4 linked regions of the Homo sapiens genome follow. The protein of the gene in region 1 purifies or fractionates together with the protein of each later gene. This does not show direct contact. Each region holds a gene or a part of one and is shown in the gene's direction. Other genes may lie near its edges.

Region 1 (8,281 bases):
CTCCGGGCCCCAAACGGCAGGATTTACAAAAATCGGTTTTTGGGCCGTGCGCGGTGGCTCAGGCCTGTAATCCCAGCACTTTGGGAGGTCGAGGCGGGCGGATCACGAGGGCAGGAGTTCGAGACCAGCCTGGACAACATGGTGAAACCCCGTCTCTACTAAAAATACAAAAATTTTTAGGGTGTGGTGGCTCATGCCTGTAATCCCAGCTACTCGGGAGGCTGAGGCAGGAGAATCGCTTGAACCTGGGAAGCGGAGGTTGCAGTGAGCCGAGATCGTGCCACTGCACTCCAGCCTGGGCAACAAGAGCGAGACTCTGTCTCAAAACAAACAAACAAACAAACAAACAAAGAGTGACTTCCAGGCTGGGTGCAGTGGCTCAGGCCTATAATCCCAGCACTTTGGGAGGCAGAGGCGGGAGGATCCCTTGAGGCCAGGAGTTCCAGACCAGCCTGGCCAACATGGTGAAACCCCATCTCTACTAAAAATATAAAAATTAGCCGGACATGGTGGCAGGCGCCTGTAATCCCAGCCAGATGGGAGGCTGAGGCAGGAGAATTGCTTGAACCTGGGAGGCGGAGGTTGCAGTGAGCCGAGATGGCACCATTGCCCTCCAGCCTGGGCGACAGAAGGAGACTCTATCTCAAAAAAAAAAAAAAAAACAAACAAACAGTGACTCCAGAGGGTTGGAGCCCTGCTAGATACCTTAGTTTGCTCATAACAGGCACTGCTGCCCCCGGGAAGAGGGTCGCCTGCCATAAATGCGGAAACAGTTAAATGGCGATGGGAATAGGATGGGAACTCAATGGTGTTGCTACCTTTGGATGGACTCGGAGGCAGCCCAGCTTCCTGGGACAGGACTGCACGGACTGCCTGGGGAGGGGTCTTTGGCCCCCCGGTTCCTGCAGGGGGGCTCGGGGAGGCCCTGTGAGCAGTTGGTCACAGGTGGGTCCCATTCGATGCGATCCTGTTCCTCCCCAACAGCCCTGGAGAAGGGGGACGTTGCCTGCTGTGGCTGCGGCTGTTTTCCTGGCCTGTGAGAGGCGGGGCCAGAGTGGCCGTTGGGAATCTGGGTGTTGCAAGGTGACCACAAACAGCTCTCTGGGGGAGGAGGAGGAAAATGCAATTGATTTTCAGGAGCCTTCTGAGGTCAGGAGTGGGAGAGTGTGCAGGGGGACCCTCCTGGCAGCTTGGGGGTCCAACAGAAGATCTGGGGGAGTCTCAGGGTCTTCTCCCCCTAGGATCACCAGTGGTGGAGATGGGGCAGGCCTGGCCATGGAGGGCACGTTGCTTGGCTGAGGGGCCTGGGCTTGAGTGTGGGGCCTGGGCTTGAGTGATGGGAGAGTTCCGAGCAGGCCGGAGGGGTTGAGCGTACCAGACGCTGCTCAAAACTTTTATTTAAAAATGATTATTATTATTATTACTATTATTTTGAGATGGACTCTTGCTCTGTCGCCCAGGCTGGAGTGCAATCGTGCGATTTCAGCTCACTGCAACCTCCCACCTCCTGGGTTCAAGTGATTCTCCCTCCTCAGCCTCCCGAGTAGTTGGGATTATAGGCGCCTGCCACCACGACGGGCTAATTTTTGTATTTTTAGTAGAAAGAGGATCTCCCCATGTTGGTCAGGCTGGTGTTGATCTCCTGACCTCAGCTGATCTGCTGCCTCAGCCTCCCAAAGTACTGGGATGACAGGGGAGCCACGGAGCCCAGCCTTTTTTTTTTTTTTTGGGAGACGGAGTTGCACTCTGTCGTCTAGGCTGGAGTGCAGTGGCGCGATCTCGGCTCACTGCAAGCTCCACCTCCCGGGTTCACGCCATTCTCCTGCCTCAGCCTCCCGAGTAGCTGGGACCGCAGGCGCCCAGGACTATGCCCGGGTAATTCTTTTGTATTTTTAGTAGAGACGGTGTTTCACCGTGTTAGCCAGGATGGTCTTGATCTCCTGACCTCGTGATCCGCCCGTCTTGGCCTCCCAAAGTGCTGGGATTACAGGCGTGAGCCACCGCGCCCAGCTTTTTTTTTTTTTTTTTAATAGAGAGAGGGTCTCACCATGTTGCCAAGGCTGGTCTCAAACTCCTGGGCTCAAGTGATCCTCCCACCTCGGCCTCCCAAGGCACTGGGATTACAGGCGTGAGCCACCACGCCCGGCCTCAAAAACTTTTCAGAATATGAACCCCACTCCATGCTCAGCACTGTTCTGTCTAGAAGGCAGAGTCTATCCCTGTCTCAGGGCACACTGACGTGCAGACAGCGAGCTCGCCCTGAGGTCATGCGACTGGGAGGGACAGAGCTTCCGGCTCCCGGCAGAGGGGAAATGGGGCCTGGCCCACGGGAGAGCTGAGGCCCACGTTTGGCCAGGACAGGGTGGATGGAGGCTGGGGCCTCCGCAGGGAAGATGGACAGGTAGGATCCGGGGTGGGCAGAGAGGGAGAGCTGGCTTGGACGGAGGCAGGGATCTGGGGGCTGTGCCATGGACCCTGTGAGGTGGCTGGGCTGTGAAACTCAGTGGAGACCGGAATTATTATTATTATTATTATTTTTTTGAGATGGAGTCTCACTGTCTCCCGGGCTGGAGTGCAGTGGCACGATCTCGGCTCACTGCAAGCTCCGCCTCCTGGGTTCACGCCATTCTCCTGCCTCAGCCTCCTGAGTAGCTGGGACTACAGGCGCCCACCACCACGCCCGGCTAATTTTTTGTATCTTTAGTAGAGATGGGGTTTCACCGTGTTAGCCAGGAAGGTCTTGATCTCCTGACCTCATGATCCGCCCGCCTCGGCCTCCCAAAGTGCTGAGATTACAGGTGTGAGCCACCGCTCCCGGCCTGGAGACCAGATTTGAGCCCTGGGACCCTACATTCCCGATGGGCAGCGGACCTCAAGGCACACCGGCCCCGCCTCCCTGGACTCTCCCCGTATCCGCCCCTTGGAGGGGCAAACTGCCCTCAGAGGGCTCCCACAGGCCCAGACACAAACTGGTGTCCCCAAGGGTGTGGGGGACACGGTAAGCTCCAGACCTCAGTTTCACCTTGGAAATGAGCCCCTTTGTAAAAAATGGAGGTGAGTTTGGACGCAGTAGCTCACACCTGTGCTCCCAGCACTTTGGGAGGCCGAGGCAGGTGGATTGCTTGAGCTTAGGAGTTTCAAACCAGCCCGAGCAACATAGTGAGACTCCACCTCTACAAAAAAATACAAAAATTAGCCGGGCATGGTGGCATGTGCCTATGGTCCCAGCTACCTGGGAGGCTGAGGCAGGAGGATTGCTGGAACCCGGGAATCGGAGGCTGCAGCGAGCTGAGATCGTGCCACTGCACTCCACCCTGGGCAACATAGTGAGATCCCATCTCTACAAAATATACAAAAATTAGCCGGGCACGGTGGCGGGTGCCTGTGGTCCCAGCTACTCGGGAGGCTGAGGCAGGAGGATCAGTTGAACCCAGGAGATTGAGGCTGCAGTGAGCTGAGATGGTGCCGCTGCCCTCCAGCCTGGGCAACAGCGAGACCTCAACTCTGAAAAAAACAAAAGAAGGAGATGAAATTTACATAACTTAAAATTAGCCATTTTGAACGGTACAGTGAAGTGGTTTTCGGTGCATTCACCGACTTGTGCAACCATCACTGCTGTCCAGTCCCAGAACATTCCATCACCCCAAAGAAGGAAGCCCCATCTCCATCCATCAGCCATCACCCCCTGCCCTCCCCCGGCCCCTGGCAACCACAGATCCACTTCCTGCCTCTGCAGATTTGCTTGTTCTGGACATTTCGTCTATTTATTTTTATATAGTTTTTAATTTGTTTTTATTTATTTTTTTTGAGACGGAGTCTCTCTGTGTCACCCAGGCTGGAGTGCAGTGGCGCAATCTCGGCTCACTGCAACCTCCACCTCCCAGGTTCAAGCGATTATCCTGTCTCAGCTTCCCAAGTAGCTGGGACTATAGGCGCCCGCCACCACGCCCAGCTAATTTCTTTTTTTTTTTTGAAATGGAGTTTTGCTCTTGTCGCCCAGGCTGGAGTGCAATGGTGCGATCTCGGCTCGCTGCAACCTCCGCCTCCCAGGTTCAAGTGATTCTCCTGCCTCAGCCTCCTGAGTAGCTGGGATTACAGGCATGTGCCACCACGCCCAGTTAATTTTGTATTTTTAGTAGAGATGGGGTTTCTCCATGTTGGTCAGGCTGGTCTTGAACGCCCAACCTCAGGTGATCTGCCTGCCTCGGCCTCCCAGAGTGCTAGGATTACAGGTGTGAGCCACCGCACCCAGCTTGTCAATTATATCTCAATAAAGCTGTTGAAAAAGTTTAAAAAAATCACCCAATCGGGCACAGTGTTTCACACCTGTAATCCCAGCATTTTGGGAGGCCGAGGTGGGTGGATCACCTGAGGTCGGGAGTTTGAGACCAGCCTGGCCAATATAGTGAAACCCCATCTCTACTAAAAATACAAAAAATTAGCCAGGCGTGGTGGTGGACAACTGTAATCCTAGCTACTCAGGAGGCTGAGACAGGAGAATCACTTGAGCCTGGGAGGCGGAGGTTGCAGTGAGTCGAGATCACACCATTGCACTCCAGCCTGGGCAACAAGAGCGAAACTCCGTCTCAAAATAATAATAATAATAATAATAATAATAATCACCCATACAGACGCGCAGGACTCAACGCAGGACTGCCAGCTCCACTGCCCTGAGCCCCCCGGTGCCAGGCCCAGCGGGCAGTGCTGGAGCCCCAGTGGCTTGGGATGGGGAGACTGGGACTCTGAGCTGGCAATGTTCCTGGGTGCTGGCTGCATGCCCGCCATGTGCTGGGCTCCGGGATCCACTGGTTCCTGACACCCTCACCTGCCCCTGGGGGTGTGGCCATCTTCTAGAGAGGGAAACTGAGGATCAGTGCAGAATGTAGGGGGAGCCCAGGCTGGCCCAGGGAGCAGTTGGCGGTGGAGGCCTTGGGCAATTTCCCGTGTTCCCACTGAGTGGGGCTGTCCCTGGGCCTGGGCGGGGACGCCACCAACTGCCAAGGCCTGTGTATAAGGGCAGCCGCCGCCTTAGCCACAGACCTGCCCCGCCATGACCCGGCTGACAGTCCTGGCCCTGCTGGCTGGTCTGCTGGCGTCCTCGAGGGCCGGTGAGTGCCTCTCTGTGCCGGTGGTCCCCCATCTGTGCTAGGGCCCGGCTGCCAGGGCAGAACTCAGACTTAAAGCACAGAGAAGGCAAGCGGCTTGGCCTGGGTCACACAGCCAGCCCGGCCTGGACGATCCCGCGAAAGGCGTGAGGGCGGACGGTGTGCGGGACTCAGGGGCCCCCTGTCCTCTTAGGGAGTGGGACGATGGGGGAGGGTGGGTCCCCCCGCAGCCCCACTGGGTGGATAGAGCTGAGGCTGCAGCTTCACACGCCCTCCCGGCCACTGTGTGGATTCTTGGGGATCTCAGAGCTGTCTCCCCCCGACCCAGGCTCCAGCCCCCTTTTGGACATCGTTGGCGGCCGGAAGGCGAGGCCCCGCCAGTTCCCGTTCCTGGCCTCCATTCAGAATCAAGGCAGGCACTTCTGCGGGGGTGCCCTGATCCATGCCCGCTTCGTGATGACCGCGGCCAGCTGCTTCCAAAGCCAGTGAGGGGTCCTGGGGAGGGGGCCTAGGGGGCATTGGGGCTCAGAGAAGGGGCTTGGGGGGCTTAGGCATTCAGTGGGGGTGCTTGGTAGGTGAGGAGGGGAGGGGATTGCAAAAGGAGGGGCTCAGGGAAAGGAGGGGGCTTGGAGAGGGAAATGGGGACTGAGTTGAGGAGGGACCCAAGGATATTGGGGGGCTCAGATGGAGGAGGCCCAGAGAAGGGAAGGGGGTCAGATGGAGGAGGCCCAGAGAAAGGAAGAGGCTCAGATGGAGGAGGTGCAGTGAAGGAAAGGGGGTCAGATGGGGGAGGCCCAGAGAAGGGAAGGGGCTCAGATGGAGGAGGGGGCCCAGAGAAAGGAAGGGGCTCAGATGGAGGAGGTGCAGAGAAGGGAAGGGGGTCAGATGGGGGAGGCCCAGAGAAGGGAAGGGGCTCAGATGGAGGAGGTGCAGAGAAGGGAAGGGGCTCAGATGGAGGAGGTGCAGAGAAGAGAAGGGCCTCAGATGGAGGAGGTGCAGAGAAGGGAAGGGCCTCAGATGGAGGAGGTGCGGAGAAGGGAAGGGGGTCAGATGGAGGAGGTGCAGAGAAGGGAAGGGGGTCAGATGGGGGAGGCCCAGGGAAGGGAAGGGGCTCAGATGGAGGAGGGGCAGAGAAGGGAAGGGGGTCAGATGGGGGAGGCCCAGGGAAGGGAAGGGGCTCAGATGGGGGAGGCGCAGAGAAGGGAAGGGGGTCAGATGGAGGAGGTGCAGAGAAGGGAAGGGGGTCAGATGGGGGAGGCCCAGATAAGGGAATGGGGTCAGATGGGGGAGGTGCAGAGAAGGGAAGGGGGTCAGATGGGGGAGGCCCAGATAAGGGAAGGGGCTCAGATGGAGGAGGTGCAGAGAAGGGGAGGGGGTCAGATGGAGGAGGCTCAGAGAAGGGAAGGGACTCAGATGGAGGAGGGGGCGCAGAGAAGAGAAGGGGCTCAGATGGAGGAGGAGGCGCAGAGAAGGGAAGGGGCTCAAGATGGGAAGGGGGCCCTGGAAAGTCTCGGCTCTGCTTCTGTAAAAGCGGGGGAGTTTTCAGGGTGAAGGATTGCAGTCTGCAGGCTGGGATCCCCCCTAATTTGCAAGCCGGCTTGCTCTGTGCCCAGGCCCCAGCCTGGTGTCCTCCCTCTGCCCTTTCCTCCGCTACTCTCAGGAACCCCGGGGTTAGCACCGTGGTGCTGGGTGCCTATGACCTGAGGCGGCGGGAGAGGCAGTCCCGCCAGACGTTTTCCATCAGCAGCATGAGCGAGAATGGCTACGACCCCCAGCAGAACCTGAACGACCTGATGCTGCTTCAGGTGAGAGGATGGTGCCACCTGTGATCCCAGCACCTCGGGAGGCCGACGTTAGCCAGGGAAACAAGTCCAAACTTGGTCTCTACAAAAAAATACAAAAATTAGCCGGGAGTGGTGGCGCGCACCTGTGGCCCCTGTGCTTCAGGAGGCCGAGGCGGAAGGACGGCTTGAGGTCAGGAGTTCGAGACCAGCCTGGGCAACATGGCCAAACTCAGTCTCTACAAAAATATATATGTGTGTGTGTGTGTGTGTGTGTGTGTGTGTGTGTGTGTATCTTGCCGGGTGAGGTGGCTCATGCCTGTAATCCCAGCATTTTGGGAGGCCGAGGTGGGCGGATCACGAGGTCAGGAGATTGAGACCAGCCTGGCCAACATGGTGAAACCCCATCTCTACTAAAAATACAAAAATTAGCCAGGCATGGCAGCGGGCGCCTCTAGTCCCAGCTACTCAGGAGGCTGAGGCAGGAGAATCGCTTGAACCCGGGAGGCGGAGCTTGCAGTGAGCCGAGATCGCGCCCCTGCACTCCAGCCTGGGTAACAGAGCCAGACCCTATCTCAAAAAAAACTTCCAAAAACAATACAGCAACACATACAGATGTACCACGGTTCGCGTATGGAGCCTCCTGTTGGTGGAGACTGACGTCGTTTTCAAATGCTTTTGCTATGACAGAATCATGTGAATGTTTTTCATGTTTGGTTTTTTTCTTTGAGAAAATGATAAAATTATCTCAAAAATATCATTAAAAAATTTAAAAAAGTAGAGACGGGGGTTTCACCTTGTTGGCCAGTTTGGTCTCGAACTCCTGGCCTCAAGTGATCCACCCACCTTGGCCTCGCAACGTGCTGGGAATACAGGCGTGAGCCACCGCACCCGGCCCCTGCCGGGAATTAAACGCAAACCACTTACAGACTACAGTTAATGTCGCTGACACTTCTGCTCCCAGGGGTCCCCATGAGGCTCCAGTCCCCAGGGCCACCCTCCCCTGACTCCATTTCCTTCCCCAGCTGGACCGTGAGGCCAACCTCACCAGCAGCGTGACGATACTGCCACTGCCTCTGCAGAACGCCACGGTGGAAGCCGGCACCAGATGCCAGGTGGCCGGCTGGGGGAGCCAGCGCAGTGGGGGGCGTCTCTCCCGTTTTCCCAGGTTTGTCAACGTGACTGTGACCCCCGAGGACCAGTGTCGCCCCAACAACGTGTGCACCGGTGTGCTCACCCGCCGCGGTGGCATCTGCAATGTGAGTGCTCCCTGTGGCGGGAGGAGGGGTCCTGAGAGGTACTGAGCTCTCCGTGGCAGGAGAAAGCAAGTGCAGGCTGAGGGCGGCACAGCAGGGGGGCCCCAGGATTGAGCATTTTCACGGTAGGAGAAACAGT
Region 2 (7,790 bases), 3.6 Mb from region 1:
CCCTAGTGGTTGTTTAGGGATATAGATACTTAGGGTCTATCTCTACACCCCAGATGATGGTTAAACCCTGGAGAAAGATTTAATCCAGACGAATTTTAGAGTTGTCACTGAGAACAGTCCCACCCCCTTGCCCCAGCACTTTGAAATCAGATGGCCTGGCCCTGGGTTAGACCTTGCCCAGCAGGCGTCAGACCTTCACCTGCTTGGTTAGAGCACCATAGAGTACTGCTCCCTAGCAGGAAAGATGTCCTCAGAGGTCTTGGAGGAATTCCTGGGCCACTTTGTTCCCTGCTATAGACAGGTCTCTGGAAGCCACCACCCCCACTCCCAGCGATCAGGGCCTGTGCCCATATTGTCCTGAGCTGACACCCTCTTTAGAGGAATGAACCAGGCCTCTTGTGCCGGCCACCAGGACTTTGTCTCTCTCAAGGGAAGCAGGATGACCTGCGTTCAGATCTGTGAATGGCGCCTTGAAGCCTGGAAAGGACAGTGTGGTGTTAGCTGGGCTTAGGATTGCCTATTTCCACATCCCGAGGCCTAGTCCCAAAGCACAATGGCCACAGCCCACCCTCGGGGCTGTCGTCTTGGCCTCCTGGTCAATTCTGTCCTGAGTCGTGCTCTTAGAAGTCACCCTGGCTGCGTTCCATGCTCTTCTGTGATCATTGCCATGGTTCCCTCTGACATCTCAGCTGTTATCTGGACGTATCCGACTATTTGTGTCTCTTTTTTTGTTTTTAGTCTAATAACAACTCTTTCACCCTCTGCTGTGCCTGTTGGAAAGTGACATCTCTCGGGATCTCTCATTACGTAGTGATACAAACATTTATTGAGTTCTCACCATGTGAGCAGGCAGTATGCTTTATACCAGTAGGTCTCAGCTGGTCTTGCTTATCCGGTCTAAGGGTAAAAAACATTCCCCCTTTTACACAAAAGGATTAGGGGACATTTATCTTCCTGTAAAACAGGGCCAGTTCTGTCCTCCAGGGGACATTGACAATGTCTGGGACCTTTTTGGTTGTCACAGCTTGGTGCGGTGCTGCTGGCTACTAGTAGGTAGACGATATTGCTGGACATCCTCCGGTGCCCAGGGCAGCATCTCCCCACTGCCCCCAAGAATTACCTGGCCCCAAATGTCAATAGTACCAAAATTTGAGAAACCCTGCTTGAAGATTTGGAAAAAAAATGAGGATAATTATACCAAAACAAAGGAACAAAAAAATCCCCACTGAGCCATTCTTACGATTTTCCTAGTTTGGCCAGGTGTGGTGGCTCACGCCTTTAATCCCAGCAGTTTGGGAAGCACTCCAGCCTGGTGGATGAGAGCGAGACTTCGTCTCAAAAAAAAAAAAAGTAAAATATAAAATAAAACAAAGATTTTCCTAGTTTGCTAAACACAGATAGCCACATGTGTAGTTTGTTTTTGTTTGTTTGTTTGTTTTTGAGACGGAGCTTCTCTCTTGTTGCCCAGGCTGGAGTACAATGGCACGATCTCGGCTCACTGCAACCTCCGCCTCCTCTGTTCAAGCAATTCTCCTGCCTCAGCCTCCCGAGTAGCTGCGATTACAGGCACCCACCACCATGCCCCGCTAATTTTTTTGTATTTTTAGTAGAGACGGGGTTTCACCATGTTGGCCAGGCTGGTCTCGAACTCTTGACCTCGGGTGATCTACCTGCCTCAGTCTCCCAAAGTGCTGAGATTACAGGCATGAGCCATGGCACCCCGCCCCACAGGTAGATATTTACATAAAACTCAGCATCCAGACCCTAAGGTCGAGCCCACCCTCAAGTCTTTAGGAAAATTCGAGTGTCTTTCAGTATCTGGGCTTCTTTTTTAGGGGGGAGCTAGATCCACCATAAACATTTTATGTGTATATGTACACCGTTTATCATATACATATTGTGACAACTGTATATATATATATATATTTTGAGACAGAGTCTTGCTCTGTCACCCAGGCTGGAGTGCAGTGGCGCAATCTTGGCTTACTGAGACCAACCTCCGCCTCCCGGGTTCAAGCGATTCTCTTGCCTCAGCCTCCTGAGTAGCTGGGATTACAGGTGCGCCACCACACCCGGCTAATTTTTTTTGTATTTTTAGTAGAGACAGGGTTTCACCATGTTGGTCAGGCTGGTGTTGAACTCCTGACCTCATGATCTGCCCGCCTCAGCCTCCCAAAGTGCTGGGATTACAGGTGTGAGCCACCGTGCCTGGCCTAAACAACTTGTATGTATACATACACTGTTTATCATATATACGTATTGTGGCAACCATATGTATGAATAAGCCTTCAAAAGGTGAGCACCTGTATTTCCTGGTAATTGACAATGTCAGTTTTGTGTGATGTAGTCTCTATGGAATTTCCCGTACATATGATGACAGAAACAAAGACTGAAACATGGTTCACAGAGAAACACAGAACATACATGACTCTCAGAATAACCATGTCTGCTGCTGTGTAGGGAACTCTTTGAGAGGAAACACTTTCACTGCTGGCCTCAAATGCCACTATCCACTTAGGTTCTTCAGTGTGAACCTTTAATTCAAAAGTACCTTCCAGCTGATCACGAGGAACCTTTATCGCTTGCACCTGAGGAGGTCAGGGCTGCAGGGAGCCCTGATTGTAGCACTGCACTCCAGCCTGGGAGACAGAGCCAGACCCTGTCTCCAAAAAAAAACACCATTTACAGTGACTTAGAAAAGGGACAGTTTCCAGTGCTACACACAATGGTTCCATACACAGCTTAAAGGTTTCCAGTTCTTTGCTGGAACTTGATTTAATAGTTGAGAGCCACAGGCATCGGGGCTCCTGAAGGAGGGGCACGCGCCCATCAGCGCTGTCAGCCGGGGATGGCGCAGACCCCTTCCTTGGCTTGGCAATGTCGGAGACAGTTGTTATCGCAACTTTGGGAGAGAATGCTCATGGCATCGAGGGGATAGGGGCCAGGGATGGTTGCCAAGCATCCTACAATGCATAGGACAGCTTCCCCCCGCTGCAAAGGAAGAATTCTCCAGCCCTACGTCAGTAGAGTTGAGCTTAAGAAACCCTGCTTTAAACCAGGCTCTAGACTTCCAAGGGTTCTTACGGTGTCCTTTCTAAATTGATCAACAGAGGCCGGGAGGATGCGGGAGAGAGTGCTGGAAAAGATAAACTTACTTTCTAACAGGCGAGGCTGTGTTGTTGGTTCTGAGTTTCTGATCTCTCGTTGGTGATAATGGTAAGAACCTTAGTGGGTTCCAGGCTAGTTCATCTCCCTGCAAAACCTTTTGGGAACTTGTTCAAAATTGGTTTGGGCTTGAGTGGGCAGTTTGTGAGTTTTTACTTCTTGTCATGAACTGGCCATAGACTGGTTGAGGGCCTGAGCTGGGGAAAGTTGAATCATCTGGAAGAAAGCAGTAAAAAGCCGTCCGTCATGGTCCCATCTCCCTGGTTCCCTCCTTTCTGCCTGTGTGACACCCACTCCCTCAAGAGCCTCCTGGCATCCGTGCGCAGCTAGAACTGGGGGACTAAGGAGGGTGAAAGAATGCCGCTAGCGAGAGCTGCTCTCAGAAGTTCCCTTGGTGTGCTGGGGGTTTGGGTGACATTATTTCCAGGCTTAAGCTGCTAACTGGCTTCCTGATAAATCTTGTGGCCGGGCTGTGTGAGATTGAGAGTGTAACTAGGGGTAGAGCTGGCAGCTGCCTGGAATGCTGGCTTTTTTTTTTTTTTTTTTTTGCCTGAAAGGAGGGAGAGGGTTTGAACATTTGAATGGAAAGATTGCTTCAGACTGAGCTAGGAGGGACATTCACAAGCGTCACCTCCCATAGCTTTGAAATCTGCCTGATGCTCCTTAGGCCCTGGGTTTGTGCCTAGGAGAAAAGGAGAGGCCAGGGGGGTTGGGGGAGGACTGTCTGCCGGGGGATCCTGGGCCCCACCTATTTGGGGGCTGTAGGTCAGAGTAAGCAGTGTCTGGGACATGGCTGGTGTTTCAGAATGTCAACGATACTGCTTGTTCTGACCTATTTTTATTTTTATTTATTTTTAAATTTTAATATTAATTTTTTGTTTGTTTGAGACAGAGTCTAGCTCTGTCGCCCAGGCTGGAGTGCAGTGGCGCGATCTCTGCTCACTGCAACCTCTGCCTCCCGGGTTCAAGCAATTCTTCTGCCTCAGCCTCCTGAGTAGCTGGGATTACAGGCACATACCACCACGCCCAGCTCATTTTTGTATTTTTAGTAGAGACGGGGTTTCACATGTTGGTCAGGCTGGTTTCGAACTCCTGACCTCGTGATCCACCTGCCTTGGCCTCCCAAAGTGCTGGGATTACAGGAGTGAGCCACTGTGCCTCGCCTATTTTTATTTATTTTTTAATTTTTTTGTAGAGACTGAGTCTCACTATGTTGCCTAGGCTGGAGGCTCCTTAAACCCCACCACTCCAGGTCTTGAACTCCTGGACTCAAGTGATCTTGTCTCCTCATTCTCTCAAAGTGCTGGGATTACAGGCGTGAGCCTCTGTGCTTGGCCCTGACCTTTTTTTAGTTTATTTATGATGGTGTTTTTTTTTGTTTGTTTGTTTTGTTATTTTTGTTTTTTTTGTTTTTGAGACGGAGTCTCACACCATTGCCCAGGCTGGAATGCAGTGGCGCAATCTCACCTCACTGCAACCTCCGCCTCCTGGGTTCAAGCAATTCTCCTGCCTCAGCCTCCCAAGTAGCTGGGATTACAGGCATGTGCCACCACGCCCAGCTGATTTTTGTATCTTTAGTAGAGATGAGGTTTTGCTGTGTTGACCAGGCTGGTCTCGAACTCCTGACCTCAGGTGGTGATCCTCCTGCCTCAGCCTCTCAAAGGGCTGGGATTGCAGGTGTGAGCTACCACGCCCGGGTTGTTATGATTTTTTAAAATTTTACGTATTTGAGATGCAGTCTTGTTCTGTCCCCACTCCCAAGGTGGTGTGCAGTGGCACGATCTTGTCTCACTGCAACCTCTGCTGCCCAGTTCAAGCGATTCTCCTGCCCCAGCCTCCTGAGTAGCTGGGATTACAGGTGCCTGCCACCATGCCCAGCTAATTTTTGTATTTTTAGTAGAAACGGGGTTTCGCCTTGTTGGCCAGGCTGGTTTTGAACTCCTCAGGTGATCCGCCCGCCTTGGCCTCCCATTGTGCTGGGATTACAGGCCTGAGCCACGTGCCCGGCCCTGACCTCTTTTTTAAAACCTCACTTTGTGGGGCCACTCTTGGTTTTCCTACCAAAGTGCTTGACTTGTTAAGCCATAAACATGGAATGATCTTTTGTGTGTGTGTGTGTGTGTGTGTGTGTGTGTGTGTGTGTGTGTGTGTGTGTGACGGAGTCTTGCTCTGTCCCAGGCTGGAGTGCAGCGGGCCGATCTCAGGTCACTGCAACCTCCGCTTCCTGGGTCCAAGTAATTCTCCTGCCTCAGCCTCCTGAGTAGCTGGGAATACAGGCGTGCGCCACCACAGCTGGCCAATTTTTGTATTTTTAGTGGACACAGGGTTTCATCATGTTGGCCAGGCTGTTGTTGAACTCCTGACCTAGTGATCTCCCTGCCTTGCCTCCCAAAGTGCTGGGATTACAGGCGTGAGCCAGTGGGAATAATCTTAAGATACAAAAATATGGGGTTCATAACCCCTTCACCTTGGCACAGATAAAAGTGTATACCCTTGTGCTGGGAGTGACAGGTAGTTGAGAGGCACTTTTGTGTGGGCTGGTAAGGGCCGGCGTTGGTGATTCAGAGGCTGTGCCCGGGACAAGGCCGGTGAGTCCAGCAGCTGCAGGCTGACCTCCGGAAGCCCCCTCTCCCTCGGGGAGGTGTTGGCAACAGATGTAGGAAGGGACTTTGCTTTGTGATGTCCACGTATGATGGGAATGGAGTTAAGTCCGTTCTTGCAGGAAGCTCTGGTGACTGAATCCAGGAACGTGCGGCATGTACTGGTGTGTGCCTTGAGGCATTGGAGCCGGCATTGGAGCCGGCGGCGTGGACCCTGGGCCACCCCAGGACAGGCAGGGCTCACTCTGTTTCTGGCTTGCAGACGGGTGGAACCAGCAGCTGTGTGGAGGCCTGAACTGTGTGCCAGCTGGGCTGTGCAGACACAGAAGTTTGAGACTGCCTTTCCCCAAAGGAAGCTAGAGGCTCCTTACACCCCACGGCTCCCCGGGCCTGTCTGTGAAACCTGGCTCACCTGGCCCCCTTCACAGGGTTGGCTGTTGGTGGTCACTGGGCACTTTGTAACCAAGCAGCATCCTACGTTTTCCCATTCTTAACAAACCAGGACCAAGGGGTCATCAGACTCCGATTTCTGCCACCCGTGACTGCTGTACAGTAGGTCCCAGAACAAGTCAAGGGCTGAAAGTTCGGCTAAAAGTTTGTCTCTGACTCAGAATCCCGTGTTCACCAAAGACCAGTTGGGGCTCCGTGGGTGCTGATCGCCCTGCTTATCTGGGTGTGTGTTAAAGCCCAGCTCTGCAGTACTTAATTATATTCCAGGTGCCCCTAATAACAGCCTGTGAGTGCGAGATGAGGTGTCTCACCTTATGCCGCTCAGTTGAAGAAATTGGGGGCTGTCACATTTTGACACCCCAGACCTATCAAGCACACAGAGAACATGACACTGCTCACCCCACCCCTGGCCACCCAGGGGTGGCCGCTGTCACGTGCGCAGTGCACCTGAGGTCTGAGCTGGCAGCTGGGCCCCTCAGATGTCTGTGTGTGTGTCTGTTGCATTTTTTCCTCAAAGGAGAAACCTGCAGGTTGAGGCCCGTCCCGCTCAGACCTGCCTGTGTCTCTGTGTCCAGTGGACTTTAATCCAGGGGCCTAGGGTACAGCCAAGCCTTCACTGCTGCCTTAGCCCTTTTCCTCCTCCGTGATTGTTTCCAGTGTTTTGCAACTGATCTGATCTGGGGAAACGTCGTGTTTAATTTGGAGCATGCTGCCAACGTCCCCAGTAGGATTTCGGAGGCAGCCGCAGGTTTCGGCGCTGCCCGGGGCAGAGCTTAGAGGAGAAGCTCAGAGCGGCCTCCATGTTTCTCTTTTCCAAGCCCCTGAGGTCTTTAAGTGCCGGGAGGGTTGGAAGGGGAAGCATTGCCCCGGGGTGGGGGTGGGGTAGGTGTCAGGAGCTCAACAGGCTCTGGAGGCATCTCAGCAGGACCTGAGCTCTCCAACTCTAATGGCTTTTTAATGTGTGAGCTGAAGTGTCAGGGGGCGGTCTCTTCTGGTTCTTTTTCGAAGCTGTCCCTGGAAAGCGGATGAAAGAATGTGGTGGCCAGGGCTGCAGCGGGTTTCCCTCTCTCCCTTCTCTCCCCTCCTCTCCCTATCTCTCCCCCCTCTTCTTCCTCTCTTTCTGTTCTCACTCTTCCCTTGTCTTTCTCTCTGTCTCTCCCTTCTTTTGCCCTCTCACCTCTTCTTCCTCTCTCTCTGTCTGTCCTCTCCACACCTTCTTCCTGTCTGTCTGCCTGCCTGTCTCTCTCTTTCTCTATCTCTCGCCTTTTGCAGGGCTGGATTTGGCAAGCACTTTTCCTGAGCACTGCAGCTTGGTGCGTTTCTGCTCATTTCCTGTTAAGCAGTACCCAGGGCTCCCTGAACTCAGGCTCTGGGAGGACGGCCCTGTCTTCCTTTTCCTCTCCACTCCTAGAAAAACCTGCTGACCAGGCCCTGAGAGCAGGGTCACGGGGAGACCTCCTCACCACAGCAGGAAGATAGACGGACAGTTTCCTCCATTGGACCTGACTCAGCAGCGGCCCACTGACCGCCTGGGAGGGGGCTCCCGCCTAGCGGGCCGCAGTTCCACACCTGGGT
Region 3 (7,790 bases), on another chromosome or scaffold:
AAAAAATAATAATAATAATAATAATAGTGCATTTTCATATGAGTATTTATTTTTGTCACTACTTTTAGGTATTAGAGTTATTTAGGTTTTACTCTATGGAATGACAGCCCTGAATAATTTATTTTATTTTATTTTATTTTTTTTTTGAGACGGAGTCTTGCTGTCGTCCAGGCTAGAGTGCAGTGGCATGATCTCGGCTCACTGCAAGCTCCGCCTCCCACTTCACGCCATTCTCCTGCCTCAGCCTTCCAAGTAGCTGGGACTATAGGCGCCTGCCACCACGCCTGGCTAATTTTTTTGTATTTTTAGTAGAGACGGGGTTTCACCACGTTAGCCAGGATGGTCTCGATCTCCTGACCTCGTTATCTGCTCGCCTCGGCCTCCCAAACTGCTGGGATTACAGGTGTGAGCCACCACGCCCAGCCCCTGAATAATTTATTCTAAAATGCACTGTAATTTGGGGAATATTAGAATATTTTGTCTCCAACTCAGATAGTTTAGGTTCCTACCTTGTGGGCTTATTTTGTTTATATTTAAATGGAATTCACTTCTATTTGTATTAAAATGTTTTAATGTGGCTGGGTGTGGTGGCTCACACCTGTAACCCCAGCACTTTGGGAGGCTGAGGCAGGCAGATCACTTAAGGTCAGGAGTTTGAGACTGGACTGGCCAGCGTGGTAAAACCCCACCTCTACCAAAAATACAAAAATTTAGCCAGGTGTGGTGGCTGGTGCCTATAGTCCCAGCTACCCAGGAGACTGAGGAAGGAGAATTGCTTGAACCCGGGAGGCAGAGGTTGCAGTGAGCCAAAATTGTGCCATTGGACTCCAGCCTGGGCAACACAGCAAGCTGCAGTGAGCCATGATCACACCACTGGGCATGAGCCATGATCACCCCAGCCTGGGCAACAGAATGAGACTGTCTTTAAAAAAAAAAAAAAAAAAAAAAAGGCTAATAAAATATTTCAAAAATTTAAAAATTGTATGTGCAGTATGAGTGCCATTAAGTTTTTAAAAAGCATAGTAAATGCAGCCTGGCATTATGGCTCATGCCTGTAATTCTAGTACTTTGGGAGGCTGAGGCGGGAGGATTGCTTGAGGGCAGGAGTTTGAGACCAGCCTAGGCAACATGGTAAAACCCCATCTCTACTAAAAATAAAAAAATTAGCCAGGGGTGGTGGCATGTGCCTGTATTTCCAGGCTGAGGCACAAGAATCGCTTGAACCCAGGAGGCGGAGGCTGCAGTGAGTCGAGATTGCGCCACTGTACTCTGGCCTGGGCAACAGGGCAAGACTCTGTCTAAAAAAAAAAAAAAAGCATAGGAAATGCATAAAAATATAACAACACTTACCTGTGATTTTGGGTCAAAGATAAGGTAGTTATGATTGTTTTTATTTTTTTAATACAGGTTGTACATGTCTTGAGGTTAGAAAAATCAAGCTAGCTATTTATTGATTGAATGTGTAGGCCTTGCACTGTAGACGTAACATCAGTATAGAGGTTATTTATCAAGCTGTAGCATGTTAGTGATCAATAACAAAACAGCTAAAAAAAAATGGCTCCTAGAAGTCATTTTTTTGTGGAATAATTTTCAAGTGTTTTAAGAAAAGCTATTTCTCCTGTTTTGTGTGTGTTTTTTTTTCTTTTTCAGCTTCAAGGTATTGCAGCATGCTGATTGAAGAAGGAGGATTGCAGCATTTATACAACATCAAAGATCATGAACATACTGATCCCCATGTCCAACAGATTGCTGTGGCCATTCTGGATAGCTTAGAAAAACACATTGTGCGCCATGGGAGGCCACCTCCCTGTAAAAAACAGCCCCAAGCCAGACTAAATTGATAGCCATAAGTATTGGATAGTTGAATCACAGGAATCCTTTTTGTGATTGGTCCATTTGGAATATCTTACCCTCCCTGATGTTTTGGGGGTTTCTATGACAAGAGTCATAAAATCAGTTTGGGATTGATAATGTGTAGTACTGCCCATGTGAACAGTCTCTAATTTGTCTTGTGATTTTAAACTTATGAGTCAAGAAGGGTCTCTTCCTTTATCATTGCCTTTTAGGAAATTTTCCACATCTTTCAGTGTTTGAACTTACTTGTGCTTGAGATTCTACAGTTTTATGGTAAAGTTTGCACGAACCCTTAGGCCAGACTTTTCTGATCTCAGAGTCCCTTCCAATCAATTTGCAGCTTCACATAAGCTGTTGACCTGATTTCTGACACTGCTTCAGTTGTAAATTTTATACTGCTTCTGTATAAAATGCCTTTCTTCTCTATCTGTGTATATTTTATAAGATGTCCTTCTTAGTGTGAAAGAAGGGAAATGTGGATCATCTTGTGGAAGCTAATCACTGGCAGGAGCCTGGATGGCTGGCGGAAAGATATATGAGAAAGAAAAATTATGAAGGTAGAACAGAGTGTAGGAACTGGGAATTGGTTTCATGGTATAGGTTTTAAAATGAGACAGGCTACCCTTCGGGAGTCCACCTCTCTTGAGGCGGTGAGCAGAAGCTTGTCCTCCATATTTATACCTAGAAGTGTGGACTGCTGGTTCCTGCACAGACTGCCGGTTATTCACTAGGAATATTTCCCCAAGCACCACAGTATAAAATACTACAGCACTCTGTGTTAAAGACTAACTGTCTACATCTCCATATGTTGTAGTGTTGTGAAAATGTGATTTTAAAAAATTATCGCCAGTTAAAACTGGCTATTCTTTTCCTCTATTTCAAAGTCATTTTTGTTCAGTGGAATAGAGACAGCAACATGGTGTTAACCTCTCAATTAAAATACAATTGACACCAGTAAATTTTGCCATAAAAAGTTAAAATCTCTTGTTCAAAATATGTGTATCTTCTTAATGTGTTCATGTTAGAGAAAGTGTCCCCATCTCACTGCCAAAAATGAAAGAAAATAATTAAACTCTTTAAATGATTAAATGTAATGATTCTACTCGCAGTGCATAACAGCACATATTTTTGACAGATTATTTTTTAGGCAATTACCTTTCCTTAAGGTATCTGATACAGTATAGTAAAGAATCACTTATATCAGTAATAGCACTTGAGAGATAGCAAGTCACCAAGAAACTTAATTTTCATTTAAAATTTTATTTTGTGAATAAGGTCAATCTACAATCCCAGATAACTACATTTTTTTTCATAGATGGCCAGTGTTTTCAACAGAGATTTAAAATGGAATATTAAAATTATAGTGATTATTCAGAAGCATTTTAATTTAGAAAGGAGCTGGTTTGTTAGTTCACTGATGACATTTTTTGACAAACATTTTATACCATTATCACAATAATCAGACTTGAATTTTTTTTGGAGTTCCTTCATGTGAATGAAAACTGAGTTAAAAGAAAGTAGGCATTTAGGTCTGGATGCAGTGGCTCATGCTTGTAATCCCAGCACTTTGGGAAGCTGAAGCAGGAGGATTGCTTGAGCCCAGAAGTTCAAGACTAGCCTGGGCAACATAGTGAGACTCGGTCTCTACCAAAAAAAAAAATTTTTTTTTTTTAAATTAGCTGGGTGTGGTGGCACCTGGGAAACAGAGCGAGACGCTGACTCAAATAAATATCTAAATAGATATTTAGAATCACTGAAAACCATATTAAATGCTGGGTTAATGCTGACTTAATTGGCTTAAGGAATTTTTATAGGCGTAAGATAAATTTTCACAGACTAAGTTTATTTCAGACAAAATAGAGAATTCTTTTAAAAGTTTTTTTTTTTTTTTTCCTTTTTCGAATGTTAATGTCTAAGACAAAGTTCAGAAAACGAGATGGCCTGTGGTAGTTTGGAAATTGCTAGATATGTTGACCGTTTCCAGGTCTTTTATCTAGTGTAGTTAAGGGAAAGCCTATTTAAGAAGTTTGGCTTCAAGTTTCTGTTTTATAAGACAAAAGTGCATATTTCTTTACAGGCTAATGCTAGGTTTTTGTCTTTACAAATTATTTTCAGAAATGGCTAAAAGTGTACAGAAAACAGTAAATCCCTTCTTTACTCAGAATAACTTCTTAATAGTTGAAGCATCCAAAATATGTAAAAGCAAGGGTGGGCGTAGTGGCTCTTGCCTGTAATCCCAGCATTCTGGGAGGCCGAGGCGGGCAGATCACTTGAGATCAGGAGTTCGAGACCACCCTGGCCAACGTGGTGAAACCCCGTCTCTACTAAAAATACAAAAACTAGCTGGGCATGGTGGCTTTTTTGCACGCCTATAGTCCCAGCTACTCGGGAGGCTGAGGCACGAGAATCACTTGAACCCAGGAAGTGGAGGTTGCAGTGAGCTAAGATCGTGCCACTGCACTCCAGCCTGGACAACGGAGTGAGACTCTGGGGAAAAAAAAAATTAAACTTCCTACTTTTTTTCTTTTTGTAGAGACAGAGTTTCACTCTGTCGCCCAAGCTGGAGTGCAGTGGCACAATCATACCTCACTGCAGCCTCTTGGGCTTATGTGATCTTACCCCCTCAGCCTCTGGAGTAGCTGGAACTACAGGCTAAATTTCCTACTTTGTAAACATCAGTAGTGGCCAGATACTTCTGAGTCTTAAAAGCATAATAGGCCGGGCGCGGTGGCTCACGCCTGTAATCCCAGCACTTTGGGAGGCCGAGGTGGGTGGATCACAAGGTCAGGAGTTCAAGACCAGCCTGGCCCAAATGGTGAAACCCTGTCTCTACTAAATATACAAAAATTAGCTGGGTGTGGTGGCGGGCACCTGTAATCCCAGCTACTCAGGAGGCTGAGGCAGGAGAATCGCTTGAACCTGGGAGGTGGAGGTTGTGGTGAGCCAATATCATGCCACTGCACTCCAGCCTGGGTGACAGAGTAAGACTCCGTCTCAAAAAAAAAAAAAGCATAATAATTTATTACATCCCAAATATATAAAAATTTGAGTGCCTTTGCAGTTGGGATGGTTCCTAAAATTGCGTATAGAATTAAGGCACAGAATTGTGTGTAAGGTCCTGAATCTGGCTAAAATACAGTGGATGTATGTATTGGAATTATGAGGCATAAGTAGCCAGTATCTATAGTTAGAATCTACAAGGCCTCCTTTTTGCACCTGTAGACTAGAATATAACTGTTATTGGTGCCTTTGAGTGTTATCTCTCAGTGGCTAGAGGTGCTGTTTCAAGCACAATTTAGACTAGGGTTGAACCACTCATTGTTCAAATCATTGGTGGGCTCCAATGTAAAATATCACTACATCAGTCCACAAGCAACATTAAGGAAATCTAAAGGAAATGGAATTTGACTTTTTAGAGTATAATGATGTTCTAGGGCATAATGAGGAAAATTTTTAAAAAATAGATTATAATGATACATATTGGTATCATTAAGACAACAGATTTGAGCAAATACAATTAAGGTGTCTTATTTTTTGCATCAAGTAATTATTGCTGTGGTCTTTCTACTCCACAAAATAATTTTTTCTTTTTGCAGTTGAAAATTAACTGCATTATTAACTAATTAATAAAATAAATCAAGTGGTATAAGGGATTAGTTTACCCTCAAGCCGATGACTCCATGGCTACTGATATTAGTTAGTTTAGGATTTTTAAAAAGCATATCAGACCCCCAGTTTCAGGAATTGAGTATAAATATTGCTTCTTGTCACCCTGGGACAGTAATGCCTTATAGTGGCACTAGTCACCTTAAGTAGATTACACATGGTTGAGGTGAATAAAGCTGCATGGGAATTTGCTTTCGTGATATATTTCATTTGCAAACTTCTACATAATCAAGTTTTATGTTTAAAACCATCGGTTCTATATATCTAGCTTTAGGAAGTTGCCCTTACAGGTGGGACCTTTTGTGTTAATCTGTTTTCTCCCCAGTCATCTTATTTGGCTATGTTAAAAAAAAAAAAAAAAAAAAAGCGAGAGAGAGAGATGGTGTCTCACTGTGTTGCCCAGGCTGGTCTCGAACTCCTGGCCTCAAGTGACTTTCCCACCTCAGCTTCCCAAAGTGCTGGAATCACAGGCATGAGCCACAGTGCCTGGTCTTAGCTGTGTTTTTAATTATGCCATGCATCAACATAACACCGGGCCATCTTCCTATCCCTTCCTATCCCATATGTTTAATGAAAACATATTTTATGTGCTAAATTAGGTTAATTTACCAGAGATTTAGCTTAGTGTTTTTAAACTATAGAACAATACCCCTATAGAACAATGTACAGCTGCACCCAAGGTTAAAAAGAGGTAGCAGGGAAAACAAACTTAAACTCTTTGTATATGGTGAAACCCATCCCTCTCCTGCCCTCTAATGGTATGTTTACATTATTTCGTTATTATACAATGTAGTGGTATAAACAGTATTATTAAACTGAAGGCATAAGTTAAAGGAAGTATGTTACTTTGAGCTGATGTAGGCTCTTCCACTTTTATCTGTATTTTACTTATTTGGGGACTTTGTATTGCTAGGGCTTCAGAATACTAACTTTGACACAGCTCCCAGAGAGGTTTGCAAACTTTTGGTTTCCCTCTCAAATCCATGGTAGTAGTTTCAAATGAGTTTGTGGATAATGGATGTTTAGTCCTTATCATTTGCTGTGTTTTGACAGTTTTTAATTTGCAGTATTCACTCACGAACTGTTTTATTTTAGGAATAATGCAAAACCAACCTTCGTCCGGTGATGAGAATAGCCGTATGATAAGAGAATTTGCTCATCGTGCTTTAAATGATTAACTGTTTTACCTTATTTAGTATTTCATAGACTTTGCATGATATGGTACACTCCTAATTATGCATTCTTTGGTTTCCAAATCTTAATCTAAGATACTTTGTTAACTGACTGGTAGCCTAAGAAAGAGACTTTTCTTCCTGTTTTTCTCTCTCCCCATTTTTTGGGGTAAGTTTTGCAAAGATCAGTGCTGCTTCTCATGACTCTAAAGTAAAGCTCTTTTGGATAGCACAGCCTAACTTTACAGCTAGACAGAATGGCCATTAAGAATATTTCCAAAATCCAAGTTTATCAAAATTATTTTGTGGGAAATCATCAATCTATTTTATTAATGTTATGTGTTTAATTTTGGACTTATTTTGGGAAAAACTGTTCAAATTGGGTCCTTTTAAGCTTATTTTAAGCAGCCTAGAAGGAAGAAGCTACTTAGCTAATGAAAGCTGAGACACTTTATTAAAAGCAGGATCTTAAGAGCATTGTTTTTCCTTAAAAACTTTATACTCTCAGATAATCTGCAACAACAAAAATTAAGAAATCCCTGACTTTTGTAGAATTCCCACTGTCAAATTCTCACTGACTTATGAGTGTGAGAGAAGTTATCTTTTGTTTGAATTCTGATAGAACAGTTTAACTCCTTTCTAAGGATATAAAAAATTCATTGGAAAGTGTGTATATTTCAAAGACTCTCAATTATCTGGACTGAAGGCACTGTTCTCACTATGGCCAGATGAATGGGAGTATTCTGTACATGAATCATGCTGTATTTTAAATCAGGACATCACTTAAGTATTAATGTTGTGTGTACAGATTTTTGTTTTGGGATTTTTTTTGCCTAAATAAATGTTATAAATTTTATGTAAAGTGTGTCTTGTCTACTTTTATTCTAGACATTTGGCTTTAAAAGTTAATATTAATGCAAACTTCAAATTCCTTAGTGATCCACTTGTAATGATTGCTTTCTGAAAAAGGCTACTTTTACTGGAGAAGTTTTTATTTTTATTTTATTTTTTGAGACAGGGTCTTACTCTGTCACTCAGGCTGGAGTGCAATGGCATGATCGTGGTGCATGCCACCACACTAGGCTAATTTTTTAATTT
Region 4 (7,790 bases), on another chromosome or scaffold:
AAGTACTCTAAATATAAGCCTTCATCTCTTAAAAAGCTTTGAAAGGAATATGACCTAAAAGATATTAATACCCTAATACTCCGTAAAATCTTCCTAGTTGTAGGAAGATCTAGTTATATACTAGAAAACTTTATTTCAGAAGACATGTATAGCCTACATGTAAAAGTTTTTAGCAGCACTGTAATAGTAAAACACTGGAAACAAACCAAATGTCCAACAAAAAAAAAGATAAAGAAATGATATAGTCATACAATTGAACTACAATACTATGCAGTTAGGATTTTCTTTTTTTCCTCTATGAATTTTAGTGTGTACGGTTCACAAGACTTTTTTTTCTACTGGAGATTGACATATTGGGTTTCATATGCCACCTGCTGGATAAAGTTGGTATAGCTTTATGAATTTATCTTAACTGAACATTCTGTTCATTGTTGACACTACCTGGCTCTATTCCCCATTTCATAAAAACTTTTATAGATTGTTTAAAGCATACTATAAGTAGCCATATAGTCAGCCTGAAGTTGCGTCTCGTTAATGTTGAAATAAAAGGTCACTATAAATAAAAGATTGTGTGTCAATTTTAGGGAAGGTTAGGCTAGGTTGAAGAAACTGTTTCAACTTGTAGGAGTGTTTGTAAATATTTATAAAATTTTATGTCTACATAAAGTATTTTGCAACAGGTTTCAAAGGATGCTTTAATCTTATCCTCTAGGATATTCTATACTAAAATAATATATGAAAAATAGCATGCAAATTCTCAAAAACGTTAGGATTCTTTATATGTTTTTTGTATCTTTAAAATTATTTTGAATTTTTTTATTTACAAAAAATATGTTTTATAGGTGCTGGGAAGACAACACTTCTGAACTATATTTTGACAGAGCAACATAGTAAAAGAGTAGCGGTCATTTTAAATGAATCTGGGGAAGGTAAGTAAAGTTCAATAAATGTCATGTTGCAAGATTTTGTGTGACTGTTTATTCCTCTGGTGAATTGATATTCCATATTTAAAAATGAAAATGCAAGGTATTGTATTGATGTGGATAGCTTTAGAAAAATTAGATTAATTTCTGTTAAGATTTATATGGGTTGAGATACTGAAATTAGTTTTAATAAAATTTTATTTTGTATAACTTTGGAATTCTTATTAACAGAATTAAACTACATTTTTACATGAAATAAATGACTCCAGAAGTAAAAATCTAGACATATGAAAAAACGTTTATTTTTTATTTTATTTTATTTTTTTTGAGATGGAGTCTCTCTCTTGCCAGGCTGGAGTGCAGTGGTGCAATCTCAGCTCACTGCCACCTCTGTCTCCCGGGTTAAAGTGATTCTCCTGCCTCAGCCTCCCGAGTAGCTGGGACTACAGGCATGCGCCACCATGCCCAGATAATTTTTGTATTTTTAGTAGAGACAGGGTTTCACCATGTTGGCCAGGATGGTCTTGAGCTCCTGGCCTTATGATCCACCCGCCTCGGCCTCCCAAAGTTGCTGGGATTACAGGCGTGAGGCACCATGCCTGGCCAAAAAATGTCTTTTTTAGGAATTAGAAAGGCAGTTTTGTATGGACTCTATTGCAACTCATGAAAAATATTTGAAAATGCTTCTGTTATTAGTTAACTTTGTTTAATGTTTATTATCTGCAATGCAGTTAAAACTCAATATTTTAAAAAGAAAGTAAACATATGGTCTTTATCCTCATGTATTTTATCTGTGAAAATAAGTGTGCTTAACTTCTCAACTCAAATATTAAACTGTAGTAAAAAAAAATAGCTCTAGACACAATACTTCTGTTATCTTTATAGGAGTTTTTCTTCATAAGTATGAATTGTAATCAAAGCTCACTTCTAGCCAAAAAACAATATCTATTAGACGATTTCTTTTAAAATGTACTATTTTTTTCAGTTGTAAAAAGTAAAAGAGCTAGGTTTTATGAACAGGATGGGAAGCCAGTTATATTCCAGTTATATTCGATTTCTGATTTTAATAAACTAAAGAGAAAAGTGCTTTTTAGGCAAAAATCCTGAGATTTCTAATAACAGACTGTTTTTTTCATCATCTTATTAAATAACCTATTGCACACTGATTACATTTATTCTTACTATTTTCTTTATTTTTTCCTGGATCATTTTCACAATTTTATTTTTCACAGCATTCTCAATACTTTTCTTCATGTTTCATTAATGTTCTGTATATAGTCCGAATTCTGTAGCAACCTCTTTAGAAGCTCTTTATTAATACCTAGCTGAAATATAAAAAATATGTAAGTGTAAAACTACTCGATTTTATGGGAGCTCATTTGCTTAGTGGACTTTTAGAACTTCACCGTTTGGTATATTTCTTTATTAGAGGAAAAGTAAAACATTTAAAATAATTCTTATAGATAACAAGCATTTCAAATATAGTTTATTCTTTCTTAAGTAAGTATTGCTAGGAAAATATGTGAATTTGACTAAAAGTTTAGGTTTTTTTTTTTTGAGATGGAGTCTCGCTGTGTTGCCCAGGCTGGAGTGCAGTGGCACAGTCTCGGGTCACTGCAACCTCCGCCTCCCGGGTTCACGCCATTCTCCTGCCTCAGCCGCCTGAGTAGCTGGGACTACAGGCGCCCGCTACCACACCTGGCTAATTTTTTGTAATTTTAGTAGAGATGAGGTTTCATTGTGTTAGCGAGGGTGGTCTCGATCTCCTGACCTCGTTATCCGCCCGCCTTGGCCTCCCTATAAGTTTAATTTTTAAATGAGCACATGGTACACTGGCCAAAAACCTTCCTCAGGATGAACTAGGGTTTTTACTCATTGGGAATATTCAGCAGTTTGTCTAACAGAAACAATTTAGAAGAAGAATGAAAAGAAAAAGATAAGGCAGTCTCTTAAGAGGTTGAAGGGCATACAGAATCCAGTATATAAAACATACTAGTCGATTTAGAAAGTTTACCCTGGACAAGAAAAAAATGCCTTCATTAAGAAATGGGGGTGGCCAAGTAAGAGGCCTAAGGAGGAAGTAGGTATGTTTATCAGTTTAGGATGTGTCTTTTTCAGGGCTTAAGACATCTTAAATAAAAGCTAAAATAATGTAGTGTACTGTAATTTAGGTATCAAGGCTGCATGAATAAAGTGAAAGAATATAAGTTATAAAATGCAGTTTCTGCTTTAAGATCTCCATTATTGAGTTATCCTCATCTTTGTTTTTTGTTGGCTAATGGACATAAGCTAAAGAGTGCTGTTTGTTATTTATTCTAGGAAGTGCGCTGGAGAAATCCTTAGCTGTCAGCCAAGGTGGAGAGCTCTATGAAGAGTGGCTGGAACTTAGAAACGGTTGCCTCTGCTGTTCAGTGAAGTGAGGAATGTGTTTACTGTGTACATGGTTTACTAGAAATGTTTATTGATTATATTTCCAGCTTTAATTTTCTTGAGTAATTTAACTGAATTTACACAGTTTGCTTCATTGTATTTTCAAACAAATAGAAAATAAACTTATTAGGAAGCATTTTCTTAAAGTGTTTCTTGCTGTCTTTTCTATCTGCTCTAATGTTTTGGTCCTTTTATTGAGTTTTTATTGCTTTTGATGTCAGGGCTTATTTAATCTCTAGTGCATGAAAGTCTCATATGTAAAAAATGATTATTCTGAATTTAATCTGTCATTGGTCATACTTCTAAGTGTTCAACCTTATAAAAAATAAATGACTATCAAAAAAGAAAAACCTTACATTATGTTCTAGTAGTTAAGTTTCCAAGGACAGTGATCACTAGTCTACCATAGACCCTAGAAGAGTTACCCAACACATAGTAGCACTCAAATATTTGTTGAATGAATTATAAAAATGACTACTTGTATTGTTAATTTTGTGTATTCTAGTGAATTAAATCTCTTCGGCATCATTTACTCCCTTAGGTATTTGACTTTGTGTCAAATGTTTTGGCAAGGATAAAATTATAACAGACTTTCTTGAACAACCAAAATGTAATCTATTAAGGATTTTCCTTCACTTTTGATAAAATAAGAAAAAAGGAATTTAAAACCTTGCATCCTAATGTAAAATAGAATTATATGGTGTTTAATATCAGTGTCCCTTTAGCTATTATATTAAACTACTATAGTTAATAAATTTTATCATTATTTTGTATGTTGGTTTTTAAAAATTTCATAAAGCTATAAAAAGATACTTGGTCAGATAAAGTTTCCTCTGCTTTTAATTTTAATAAAGTATTATTATGTATATGATTTCTTTTTACCTATTATATATATGCATCTATTGTTTTCTCACTGGTAAATATGGGACAGACATTTTGTTAGAAGGTTAGAAGTGAGTTAAATTTTCACATTCCTAAGGATACTTTTGTCTCGGGTTGTTGAATACATTTTAAAGTGTTTATAATAATCACTTCAAAATATTTAGGTAATTAACTGTAAATTATGTTTTGGTATTCTCCAGGGACAATGGCCTTAGAGCTATTGAGAATTTGATGCAAAAGAAGGGGAAATTTGATGACATACTGTTAGAGACCACTGGATTAGCAGACCCTGGTAAGAAGTGAGATTATTAATAACCAGAATATAGTTCTGTGATATATTGTAAATAGATGTATTAGAGGAATATCTAAAATGAGTATTAAAGCTTTTGTTAGTATTAAACCAAAAACTTTTTTTGGTTTAAAAGAGGAAAAGTACTCGTTTGTCATTTTCTTTGGCAGTTGAATGAATGATCAGAGTATTTCTTGGTGCTTTTAAGCTGTTAATAGAATTGGAAGTTTTATTGATTGATTTAGGATTATTTGTAAGAACAGAAGTTGTTAAAAATAAGGACATGTAGGAAGAGCAGAGACGTTCTACTTCTAAGTACAGTTGTCCCTTGGCATCCATGGCGTATTAGTTCCAGAACCTCTGAGGATACCAAAATCTATTAATGTTCAAGTCCCTTACATAAAATGGTGTAGTATTTGCCTATAACCTATGCACATCCTCCCATATACTTTAAATCATCTGTAGATTACTTATAATACCTAATACAATGTAAGTGCTGTGTAAGTAGTTATTATACTGCATTGATAAGGTAATCATGACAAGAAACTCTAAACTCTACTATGGAAAGCTACACAGAGTCAACCTGTTTCTCACAATGGGTTTCTGTTACCTTCTTACCAAGCTCTAATTCTTGATAAAGTCTGCTTATTTTCCCCAAATAACTTTTAGATAAAATCTTTATTTTCAGTTTGCATAAAAGTTAGTGCTTATTCTGTGAATCTGACCCATACCATTATTTTCTTTTTGATCTGGGTCTCTGGCATTGGGGCGATTTGTAAAACTATATTAAAGTATTTGGGGGTAATTTACTAAACAGGTCATAGTTGTCCAAAAGAAATATTGAAGTATCCTGAGAGTTCAAATGTGATCAGTGGTTATTGTACTTAAAACAATTACGTAGTAACATCATCCCCATGTTTTCAAAGTAGTATTGAATTAGGCTATTTTGGTCCTTATAGTAGGCATGGGTTTTCATACCTTTCTGATAAATCTGACTGATGATAGGACTTGGACTAATATGTTGGCGTTAAATATTATTTGAATCTGGTAAGAAAGAATATATTGTATGCTTTTATTAGAAATAGCAAATATCAGTTTATTTCATCATAGCCAGTTTTGCCATTTTATAGACAAAAACTTGATACTTTTGAGAGTTTAATTAAACACTATTCAGCTTTTCAGAGGAAGAAAGAAAAACTAAAGATCACAGAGAAAGCTTTTATACAAATTGTAGTTATAAAAAATGTTAATGTTTCTTGCTTCTAACTTTCTTTACAATAAAGATTTTATTGTTTGGGTAAAGATGGAACATTCATTGTAAAAAAATTTAAATACCTAAAAAATACAAAGAAGAAAGTTGAAAAGTAATCATCTCACTATTGTGATATACAAGTAAGGGCTGGGCATGGTGGCTCATGTCTGTAATCCCAGCACTTTGGGAGGCTGAGGCAGGTGGATCCCTTGAGGCCAGGAGTTCAAGACCAGCCTAGCCAACATGGTGAAATCCAGTCTCTACTGAAAATTCAAAAACTAGCCAGGCGTTGTGGCGCACCCCATAATCCCAGCTACTCAGGAGGCTAAGGCATGAGAATCGCTTGAAAGCTGGGAGGCGGAGGTTATGGTGAGCCGAGATCACGCCACTGCACTCCAGCCCAGGCAACAGAGCAAGACTGTATACACACACACGCACATGCACACGCACACACACACACACACATTCATACACACACACACAAGTAGGTAAATTTTATTCCAGGGATCTCTCTATGCCAGTGCTACTTGGTAGTATGTTGAATGGCAGCCTCAGCCTCAGCTGGGAGCTTGTTAGAAATGCAAATTCTTGACCAACCCAGATCTACTGAATCGGAATCTCTAAGGGAGGGGGTCAAGCAAGCTGTTTTTAATAAGCCCTTCAGGTGATTCTTATACTGTACAGCCATACCGCAGGGATATTGTGGGCTTAGTTCCATATCACTGCAGTAAACTGAATATCACAATAGAGTGAGTCACACACATTTTTTTGTTTCCCATTGCATATAAAAGTTATGCGTTTTGGCCGGGTGTGATGTGACAGGCCTGTAGTCCCAGCTACTTGGATCACTTGAGCTCAGGAGTTTGAGGCTGCAGTGAGTCATGATTGCACCACCGCACTCCAGCCTGGATGACAGCATGAGACCCCATTTCTTAAAAAAAAAAAAAAAAAAAAAAAGCTGTGTTTATACTATACTGTAGTCTATAAAATGTGTAATAGAATTGTCTAAAAAACATACATACCTTAATTAAAAATATTTATTGCTAAAAAATGCTAACGATCATCTCAGCTTTCAGCAAGTCATAATCTTTTTGCTGGTAGAGGGTCTTGCCACAATGTTGATGGGTGCTGACCAATCAGGGTAGTAGTTACTGAAGGTTGGGGTGGCTATCGCAATTTCATAAGATAATAATGAAGTTTGCTGCATTAGTTGACTCTCCCTTTCATAAAAGATGTCTCTATAGCACATGATGCTATTTGATAGCATTTTACCCACAGTATGACTTCTTTCAAAATTGGAGTCAGTCCTCTCAAACCCTGCTTTATCAATTAAGCTTCTGTCATATTTTAAATCCTTTGTTGTCATTTTGACAGTGTTCATAGCATCTTCACCAGGAGTAGATTCCATCTCAAGAAACCACGTTCTTTTCCCGTCCATAAGAAACAACTTCTCATTAGTTAAAGTTTTCTTATGAGATTGCAGGAATTGAGTCACATCTTCAGACTCCCCTTCTAATTCTAGTTCTCTTACTGTTTCCACCATATCTGCAGTTATTTCCTCCGTTGAAGTCTGAAATCCCTCAAAGTCATCTGTGAGGGCTGGAATCATCTTTCAAACTCCTATTCATGTTGATACTTTGATCTCCCATGAATCACGAATGTTCTTAATGGCATCTAGAATGATGAATCCTTTCCAGAAGGTTTTCAATTTACTTTGCCTAGATCCATCAGAGGAATCACTATCTATGGTAGCTATAGCCTTATGAAATATATTTCTTAAATAAGACTTAAAAGTCAAAGTTACTCCTTGATCAGTGGGCTGCAGAATGGATGTTGTGTTAGCAGGCATGAAAACAACATTAATCTCCTTGTACATCTCCATCACAGCTCTTGGGTGATCAGGTGTGTTGTCAATGAGCAATAATATTTTGAAGGAATCTTTTTTTTTCTAAGCAGTAGATCTCAATGGTGGGCTTAAAATAAACCATGCTGTAAACAGATGTGCTGTCATCTA

What was found.
Region 2: the proteins of AZU1 (region 1) and SH3GL1 purify together in Homo sapiens (affinity purification with mass spectrometry; 4 studies listed by BioGRID and IntAct, with this or other methods). This does not show direct contact.
Region 3: the proteins of AZU1 (region 1) and ZYG11B purify together in Homo sapiens (affinity purification with mass spectrometry; 4 studies listed by BioGRID and IntAct, with this or other methods). This does not show direct contact.
Region 4: the proteins of AZU1 (region 1) and ZNG1C purify together in Homo sapiens (affinity purification with mass spectrometry; 3 studies listed by BioGRID and IntAct, with this or other methods). This does not show direct contact.

The regions. Positions count from the first base shown.
Region 1 is NC_000019.10:822,797-831,077, forward strand, and holds the start of AZU1 (azurocidin preproprotein), read left to right. Parts: upstream 1-5,040; 5' UTR 5,041-5,050; coding exon 5,051-5,108; intron 5,109-5,433; coding exon 5,434-5,590; intron 5,591-6,765; coding exon 6,766-6,910; intron 6,911-7,911; coding exon 7,912-8,145; intron 8,146-8,281. UniProt on the Homo sapiens protein: This is a neutrophil granule-derived antibacterial and monocyte- and fibroblast-specific chemotactic glycoprotein. Binds heparin.
Region 2 is NC_000019.10:4,390,050-4,397,839, reverse strand, and holds part of SH3GL1 (endophilin-A2), read left to right. Parts: intron 1-7,626; exon of another isoform or gene 7,627-7,788; intron 7,789-7,790. UniProt on the Homo sapiens protein: Implicated in endocytosis. May recruit other proteins to membranes with high curvature.
Region 3 is NC_000001.11:52,819,789-52,827,578, forward strand, and holds the end of ZYG11B (protein zyg-11 homolog B), read left to right. Parts: intron 1-1,650; coding exon 1,651-1,841; 3' UTR 1,842-7,548; downstream 7,549-7,790. UniProt on the Homo sapiens protein: Serves as substrate adapter subunit in the E3 ubiquitin ligase complex ZYG11B-CUL2-Elongin BC. Acts to target substrates bearing N-terminal degrons for proteasomal degradation with the first four residues of substrates being the key recognition elements.
Region 4 is NC_000009.12:68,244,371-68,252,160, forward strand, and holds part of ZNG1C (zinc-regulated GTPase metalloprotein activator 1C), read left to right. Parts: intron 1-842; coding exon 843-929; intron 930-3,242; coding exon 3,243-3,339; intron 3,340-4,435; coding exon 4,436-4,527; intron 4,528-7,790.